Linked DNA regions of Homo sapiens: all the other regions are linked to region 3. The links come from fine-mapping of genetic effects on gene expression. A gene starts in region 3. Each other region holds a variant in brackets. All regions are shown on one strand. Distances are between the middles of the regions.

Region 1 (2,759 bases), 21 kb after region 3:
TGCTGACTGGCCACAGGGGCTCACCTGGGCCCCATGGCTTTTCACCTAAGTGGGTCCTGCCCCCTCCCCCATGACCTTCAGGAGCACCCCATATTATTTCCAAAAATATCTTGGACAGACAAGGACCAAAATGCCAAAATCTCAGCGGACTCGATAATCTGCCTGCTGATGTTCCTTCTGTGGCTGTGTCTATTTTCAGTTCTGCTCTAACATGGCATGCCCTTTCTCAGCCCAGGAAACAGCATGTGGTTCAGAGAAAAGAGCGACAAGGAAAAGTTAGGACTCCTGAGGTCCGAACAGGGGCTTCTGTTGCCCACTTCACAACACCCAGTGATCACCGGTGTGCAATTGCCTCCTTGGCTCTGAGGGATGTTTTGCGCTCCCTTTTCTCATCATTGGGGTTAGCGGGTGCAGACAAATTCAGCAATAGTATGCAGATCAGCCCCTCACCACCTCATTGTTCTCATCTGGAACTGAAACTTTCTGGATTTCTCTTGAAGTGCTACACTGCACTGAATGTAAGGAATTGTTGCTTGTGGAAGTTTCTCAGCGTTTCTGGCTGTCTTAGGGCTGGCCTCAGAACCCAGCATTCCTGTTATTTGCTTCTAAATTAGCAGCTCTCTTTTTTTTTTTTTTTTTGAGGCAGTCTCACTCTGTCACCCAGGCTGGAGTACAATGGCGTGATCTCGGCCCACTGCAACCTCTGCCTCCTGGGTTCAAGCAATTTTCCTGCCTCAGCCTCCCGAGTAGCTGGGAGTACAGGCACACACCACCACACCCAGCTAATTTTTGTATTTTTAGTAGAGATAGGGTTTCACCATGTCTCCCAGGCTGGTCTCAAACTCCTAACCTCAAGTGATTCGCCTGCCTCGGCCTCCCAAAGTGCTGGGATTACAGGTGGGAGCCACTACAGCTGGCCCAGCAGCTCTGTTTCTGATAGAGGTGGTTGGGGCTCTCATCCCTAGATCCTAACCCTTTAGTATGCTGGAATTCTACTCTTCACTTACTGCATTGACTGTTGTTGATTAGTTATTATTGCAAAGCACTGTCACCGGCCTCAGGGAGTTTATGTGTAATAGAATTAAAAATAATAGCTGTGTATAACACTTAGCTCAAGCCACGCATGTGTGAGGCATTTGGTATGTATCTGAATTAATTCTCACTAAAATTCAGCAAAGGACTTGATAGCC[C/T]CTCCCCGCCTTTTCAATAAAGGATGAATGAAGGTTGACTGCATTGCCTGGGGTCCACAGATGGTGAGGGGGGCTGGGCGCACCCATACTACATCTGCTTCCCGCCATCCTGCAGTCTTACTTCCTGGAGGCAGTGTGTTGAGACTTTGTGCTGGCAGCTGTCTGTTGCTTCCTTTGCTCACAGGACTGTGGATAGAGGTCCCTTCCTCATGACTGTTCTGTTGTACACCTCAAGTCAGTTGGCTCCCTAGAATGTTCAACATCTTGATAAAAGGAGTTTGCCTGAGAATGGAGACTATAATCCCAGATCCCTGAGGGCTAGGAGAGCTGGGTGGGGGCGCTGAGCACTTCTGTGTGCTCCTGGTAGAGTAGCCACCCTGAGAAAAAACTGATAATAATGAAACAATGTTAAATGATGGCTATGGGGAAAACAACTATTTCAGAGATTTTTCTCATTGCTTTGCAAAGCGACCTACCCTGAGCAGTATGGGACTCCTCCGGATCATTTTTGACATTTGAATGTTCTTTCCTGACCCTTGGAAAGGATATATGTATGTCTTTCAAATTTATAGTATCGAACATACAATTTGGGGGCTGGTACCAAGGGTTAGATATTAAGTTTATTAAGTGCTTGATGCAAAAGTCAAAGGATGGCATGGGAGGTAACCTGGTTGGCTGTGATAAGTAAACTCGTGGATTTTGAAGGGGGAGCAGTTTCTGGTTTGGGTCGCAGTGGCCAAGTAAGACCCACCCTCCTCAGACACTATCAAGACCAAGTCCACTGGCTTTTCATCCGTGTTTTCATCCAGTAACCAAATAACCCTGTCCTTGCTGACCCCCACCCAGCTCCATTCCCACTCACCCACTCCCAAGGGCCCTCTGGTGAACCTTCCAGGCTAGCTCTCTGCTCCCTCCTTGCCTTCATGGAAAACCAGCTATCCTCTGAGAGCCACTTCTGCAGCCCCTCCAAGTGGTGGCTTTTCTTCTCAAACCTCAACCTCACATATCTCATCTTCCCCAGGCTGGGGAGTCGGGGTCCTCGTACCACTGCCAGACTGTTCACCCAGTTCAAAGAAAACCCTGCCCGTTGCAGGCTCATGCCATTCTACTACATCCCTTTCATCCAGTTCTTTGTGTTCTACTGACTTCCCCAGCGCTTCCTTTGGGAGAAGGTGCCAATTCTTCAATAGTTGATTCCTCTCTAGAAATACAATGTTCCTGCCAGGTGCGGTGGCTCATGCCTGTAATTCCAACACTTTGGGAGGCCAAGGCTGGTAGATCACCTGAGTTTGAGACCAGCCTGGCCAACATGGTGAACCCCGTCTCTACTAAAAATACAAAAATTAGCTGGGTGTGGTGGTGTGTGCCAATAATCCCAGCTTCTCGGGAGGCTGAGGCAGAAGAATCGCTTGAACCCAGGAGGCGGAGGTTGCAGTGAGCCGAGATCACGCCACTGCACTTCAGCCTGGGCAACAGAGTCTGTCCCAAAAAAAAAAAAAAAAAGAAAAAGAAAGAAAGAAATAGAATGTTCCAGGGCCGGGCGTGGTGGCTCACACCTGTAATCCCAGC
Region 2 (2,759 bases), 510 kb after region 3:
AGGGTACAGCTGAAACCAAGCTTTCTTTTATCTTTTATTTTATTTTATTTTATTTATTTTATGACAGGGTCTTTCCTTGTCAACCAGGCTGGAGTGCAGTGGTGCAATCATAGCTCATTGCAACTTCAAACTCCTGAGTTCAAGAGATCCTCCCGCCTCAGCCTCCCAAAGCACCAAGATCTCAGGCATGAGCCACTGCACCTGGCCAGAAACCAAGCTTTCTTATTTCAAGTGCAGACCTTTATTAAGACTAGCCTAATCCTCTATCTCCTAAGCATCCTCCTCCTGCATGGAGCGCTCATCCCCCAGGAGGGCATATTCTTCTTATTGGGAAAGTGTGATTATTGAAAGATTCCACTTTTTTAAAAGAACAGGGTTGGAGGTGCTTTTTGGGGTATCCTCCTACCAAGGAGCCTGTTGAAGGCCTCGTGGTGCTCAGGGAGCACGGAGGATGCTCGCTTTCGCTTCAGCTTCATCTTGAGCCCACACAGCGTCTCCACCACCCAGGTGTCCTCGGGCTCAGGGGCGCGCTCCAACTCCAGCTCCTCCTCCAGCTCCTCCTCGGATTCGTCTGACCATTCGCTCTTCCTTTTCAGGCCAAGGGATTGAGGCTGGGGGCTGGGATCTATCCAAGGGGCTGAGTGAAGAAACCAGGCCATGGTGTCATGTTTCTGCCATTGATCACCTTAGACGCCCCGACCCAGGAACCTCAAACTACTCTTCCATCCTCCCAAGCCTCGCAGACTGTCAGCTTCTCCAAGCCATGTTTCCACCTTTCTCCTTTGCTGATCCCCATCTGCCTCTCCCTCACCTCCCCATTCTTCCGGCTCTCTGTCCTCAAAACATTTCCTCATCACAGATAAGAACTTTCAATTGGAGAAAAATGGAAACCTTCCCTTGAGCTCTGTCTGCTCTCTCTCTCTCTCTCTCTTTTTTTTTTTTTTGAGATGGAGTCTCCCTCTTGTTGCCCAGACCGGAGTGCAGTGGCACAATCTTGGTTCACTGCAACCTCCGCCTCCTGGGTTCAAATGATTCTCCTGCCTCAGCCTCTTGAGTAGCTGGGACTACAGGCACGCACCACCATGCCCAACTCACTTTTGTATTTTTGGTAGAGACAGGGTTTCATCGTGTTAACCAGGATGGTCTCGATCTTCTGACCTCGTGATCCGTCCGCCTCGGCCTTCCTCTCTCATCTTTTGAGCACATCTCCTGACCCCCTTCATTGCTCCCCAGACTTTCTTTACACGTG[G/A]CCATGCTTGGCCCCATTCCCTGCACCCTCCTTCCCCGATCCCTGGCTTCCTGAGTCCGTCGTTTCTTTCCCACACACCCTACTCAGGTGCTTCAGATTCCCAGTAACTGGCCCCCTTCCCTCTCCTCAGTCAATCATCTCCCATCGCTTCTCCCTCCAGTCACCTCACCTGATGGTCCTGGCACTTCATCATCCACCACCACCTCGGGGGACCGTACCGTTGTGCTAGGCTGGGGGCTCTCCTCCTCAAACGGGGGGCGCGCTTGACCACTGGCCATAATCTCTCCCAAACACTTTGTTTCTGTCCACAAAACCTAGTCCCTGTTCTGTCCAAAGCCTTCTTCCAGACTCCGTTAGGACCCAGAAGAGTGCGTTTCTCTTCTAGAGGCTCGGGAGAAGTTAGGAGTGAAGAGTAGTTCTGAGAAGTTGCTGTTGTCCACCTGAACTCCCAAGCAACCAGAGTCCGGTCCTTCCAATCAGGAAAGTCGGAATCTCTGATGTCATCGGTCATTCCAAACTGGCAACTACTTTGAAGAAAAACACATGTAACTGCCAGACTGATCTCTTTTCTTGGAGATCCGGGGTGAACGGTATCTCCTGGCAATGTCCCAACCTCTGAGCATTGTCCAAAAGCATCCTCAGGGTCTCCACATTCCTCTTTTCCCTGTCCCAGCAGAGGCTGTGTCCTCTCCACTCTAAACTTGAGGGGGTGTTGGGCTCTCCTCCCCGCTTCTCCTTCCCATTTCAGAGTCTAGTCTGGTGAGAGAGGGAGGAAGGTGGAAGGAAATTTAGGGTAAGCAGAATGATGAGTCCTTCCAAGAGTGAGATTAACATATACAGGAGATCCTGGGTAAATTGACTTGTTGAATGGAGACGTTACGTCGAAGTACTCAATGTGGCAAAGCTTTTTTGCTGAATGTTTACTGATATTCACTATCCTGGATCCTATAGTAGGGGAACATGCATCCTTTGCTCTCAGGCATCTTTGAGTCCAAGAGACATTTTGAGGAATGAAAATCACAGGAGACTGTCCATGGTTTCGTACAGATTTTCAATGGTGTCCACAAGTTCAGGGCATCCATGGATCACCTAAAGCCTGCCCTCCAGTTCAGCTAAGGAACTCTGGTCTATATATCAACTATTACAACATATCTATTTCACTTGACCCCAAAATTTGCCTACTATTTATGTATTTTATGAATAAAATATCCTGTGTATAAAAAGACTAAGGGGAAAATCTCAGCCAGGCCCAGGGGCTCCTGCTCATAATCTCCCTCCTTTGGGAGGCCAAGGCAGGGCGTCACTTGAGGTTAGGAGTTCAAGATTAGTCTGGGCAACATAGCAAAACGTCATCTCTACAAAATATAAACAAAGTAATCAGGAATCGTGGCACACACCTGTGGTCCCAGTACTTGGGAGGCTGAGGCAGGAGGATTGCTTCAGCCCAAGTGTTTGAGGCTGCAGTGAGCTATGATTGCACCACTGCACACCAGCCTGGAGGACAGAGTGA
Region 3 (2,710 bases):
AAGAAAAAAGGAACAAGAGACGTAATAGCAGCACTCACGGAGGAAGGGACCTGGGCCCGGCCAGCCGCCATGATGCGCCGGAGCTCCGCCCCCGGGAGGGGCAGGTGCTCGCTTGGGGGTGGGGATGGGGGTGGGGGGGCGCTCGGTGACGTCACCGGTGAGCGGGTTTCCTCGCCACCTCCAGCTCCTTCTCGCTGCTCACCCCCTCGCTTCCTAGAGACTCCGCGAGGCGCCTCGGTGCACCATCCCAACTCCCGACACCCCTGTCTCTTTTCTCTGATTTTTTTTTTTTTAAGACGAAGCCTGGTTCTGTCGCCCAGGCTGGAGTGCAGTGGCGCGATCTCGGCTCACTGCAACCCCCGCCTCCCAGGTTCAAGGGATTTTCCGGCCTCAGCCTCCTGAGTAGCTAGGATTACAGGCACCTGCCACCACCACGCCCGGCTAATTTTTTTTTTTTTTTTTTTTTTTGTATTTTTAGTAGAGACGGGGTTTCACCATGTGGCCAGGCTGGTCTCAAACTCCTGACCTCAGGTGATCCACCCGCCTCAGCCTCCCAAAGTGCTGGGATTACAGGCGTGAAACACAGCCCCTGGCCCTCTCTGATTTTTTTGAGACGAGGTCTCGCTCTATCGCCCAGGCTGGAGTGCAGCGGCGCCATCTCGGTTCACTGCAGCCTCGACCTCCCGGGCTCAAGCGATCCTCCCACCTCAGCCCACCAAGTAGCTGGGATCGCAGGCTTGCACCGCCACACCCGGCTAATTTTTGTATTTTTCTGTAGCGACATGGTTTCGCCATGTTGCCCAGACTGGTCTCGAACTCCTGGGCTCAAGCGATCTGCCCGCCTCGGGCTCCCAAAGTGCTCGGATTACAGGCGGGAGCCACCGCGCCCAGCCTCCGTCTCCCTCCTAAGTGACATCCTGTCCGGCATCCCGCAGGCCTTCAGATGGATGGGGTAGCAGAGCTCAGGAACTCAAACACAGCCCGCCTGGTGGATGACTTCTAAGCATCTTTCAGTCTCCCTGATCTTGCCAAGCAGAGAAGGGCTTCCTCGTAATGCCACCAAAGCACAACTTTCACATGCTTGCTTTATGGCCTTAACTAACTGATGTCATTACTTAACTGTCCCCGCGGGGACGGGGAACTGAATGTATTTTCACAAACGTCAGTTCAAGACAGATTTGTGGGAGAAACCACCTGGGGATAAACCTCTCCCCACCAAGAACCTAGAATTCGGCCGGGTGGCTGGGGAAAAGTGGGCGGGGCGTAGTCGCCCCGGCGCTGGCAGGTCCAGTCTCTGCCCGCGGCGCACGCGGATGACGTAACAAACGCGCGCGACGATTCGAGGTGCTCTGTGGCCGCGAGTGCATCTTCCACGTGAGTATAGTTACCGCGTGCGGACCTGGATCCTCCTCCAGGTGCAGCGTTTCGTCATCTAGCCCAAGCTTGGTCTGGCGGCTTCAGTATCCCCACCGGGCCGAGCTGTGTCTACTTGGTGCCCGCGTATTTGCTTTAGTGGAGGCGTCCATTCGTCCTATCTTGCGTGCGTTCCGCAGACCCCAGGCATGGCCGACCCCCATGTAAATTTAGCCCCATTGTCCCATTCATGGATTCAGCTAACAGAAAGACTGCCGGCCGCCTACTTTATATCAGGCACCATGCTGGTCATGGAATACAGCCCTCATGCACGCAAACCCTGTCTCTGAGCTCTTGAAGCTTATATTTTACTGGGAATGATAGACGGAAATCAAGTGGCTTAATAAACAAAATGCCTTCAGGAAGACTGTCCTGAAAGTTGGGGAGGGGCTGAAGAGTGGTGAGAATCAAGAGTTCATTAAGTCATTCCACAAGTTTTAGAATTTTTTTGCGTTTCAAGCCCTGGTATTGTTCTAAGCCTTGGTAATTCAATGGAAACGAAGCAGCAACATCCCATGCCCACGTAGAGATTTTTTTTCTAGTGGGGAATATAGAGCGAAAAATAAAAACATCCAATAGTGATAAGCGCTTTACAGGAAATTAAAATAGGGCCGGCCATCTGATAGTAACTACTTGAGTGGCTAGTGAAGCCTTTTCCACGAAGGCGAATCACCAGAAATCTAAATAACAAGAGCTAGCCATGCATATGTCAGGGTGAAAAAAATGCCTTCCAGGACTGAGCTTGGCAAGTTAGAGAAATAAAAAAGAAGCTAATGTGTGGTTGGTGCATTGTGGGTGAAAAAGAGAATGGTGTGAGATAGGGTTGGAAAGGTAGGCCAGAGAGTGGCCAGACTTGGTAAACCAGGATGCTGAGTTGGAATTTATACCATGTGTAATGGGAAGCCATAATCCACTTTATGCTGATGTGTGACAAATGAATTGTGGTTATGCAGTGGTCAGGAGGTTAATGCATTGGTCCAGGTGAGTGATGGTGGTGGCTTACTTGAACTAGAGTGAGGTAGTAGAGATGAAGAGATGAGAGATTTGAGACATGATTGGAAATAGATTTCCTGGTGGATTGGATTTAGAGAGTCTGAGGGAAAGAGAATTAAGGATGACTTCTGTGTTTTTGTCTTGAGCAACAAATTGGATGATGGTAGTGTTTACTGAGTGGCAAGACTAGGGGAACAGCAGAGTTTGGTGAGTAAAGCCAGGGTCCCGCTGAGAGGCAGTGGGACCAGAAATTGGATAGGTAGTTTGGGATAGATGGGGAGGGCCTTTGAATGTTAGGCTAAAA

Direction of the effects. Alleles are on the strand shown, and positions count from the first base shown. SD is a standard deviation of normalised expression in the study named. Not every link is listed here.
As copies of A replace G in region 2, the expression in monocytes of the gene that starts at base 1,324 in region 3 goes down (moderate effect, 0.55 SD a copy in BLUEPRINT).

What was found.
Region 1: its variant is fine-mapped to the expression of PFAS in whole blood (INTERVAL, PIP 0.97).
Region 2: its variant is fine-mapped to the expression of PFAS in monocytes (BLUEPRINT, PIP 0.95).

Annotation. Positions count from the first base shown.
Region 1 is chr17:8,269,259-8,272,017 of GRCh38, forward strand. PFAS (phosphoribosylformylglycinamidine synthase) reads left to right here. Exons shown (of 28, transcript NM_012393.3): 28 at 1-1,228. The coding sequence ends at 6. Among named protein-coding and RNA genes, the nearest start is that of RANGRF, 18 kb to the right of the region's middle. The variant C/T (reference allele first, on the strand shown) is at 1,191.
Region 2 is chr17:8,756,856-8,759,614 of GRCh38, forward strand. It overlaps SPDYE4 (speedy/RINGO cell cycle regulator family member E4), which reads right to left and starts at 1,691. Exons shown (of 7, transcript NM_001394956.1): 1 at 1,419-1,691; 2 at 407-637. The coding sequence starts at 1,527. The variant G/A (reference allele first, on the strand shown) is at 1,250.
Region 3 is chr17:8,247,966-8,250,675 of GRCh38, forward strand. It overlaps PFAS (phosphoribosylformylglycinamidine synthase), which reads left to right and starts at 1,324. Exons shown (of 28, transcript NM_012393.3): 1 at 1,324-1,374. CTC1 (CST telomere replication complex component 1) reads right to left here and starts at 91. Exons shown (of 23, transcript NM_025099.6): 1 at 39-91. The coding sequence starts at 71. RefSeq lists enhancers at 1-27, 508-627, 752-1,508 and a silencer at 118-167.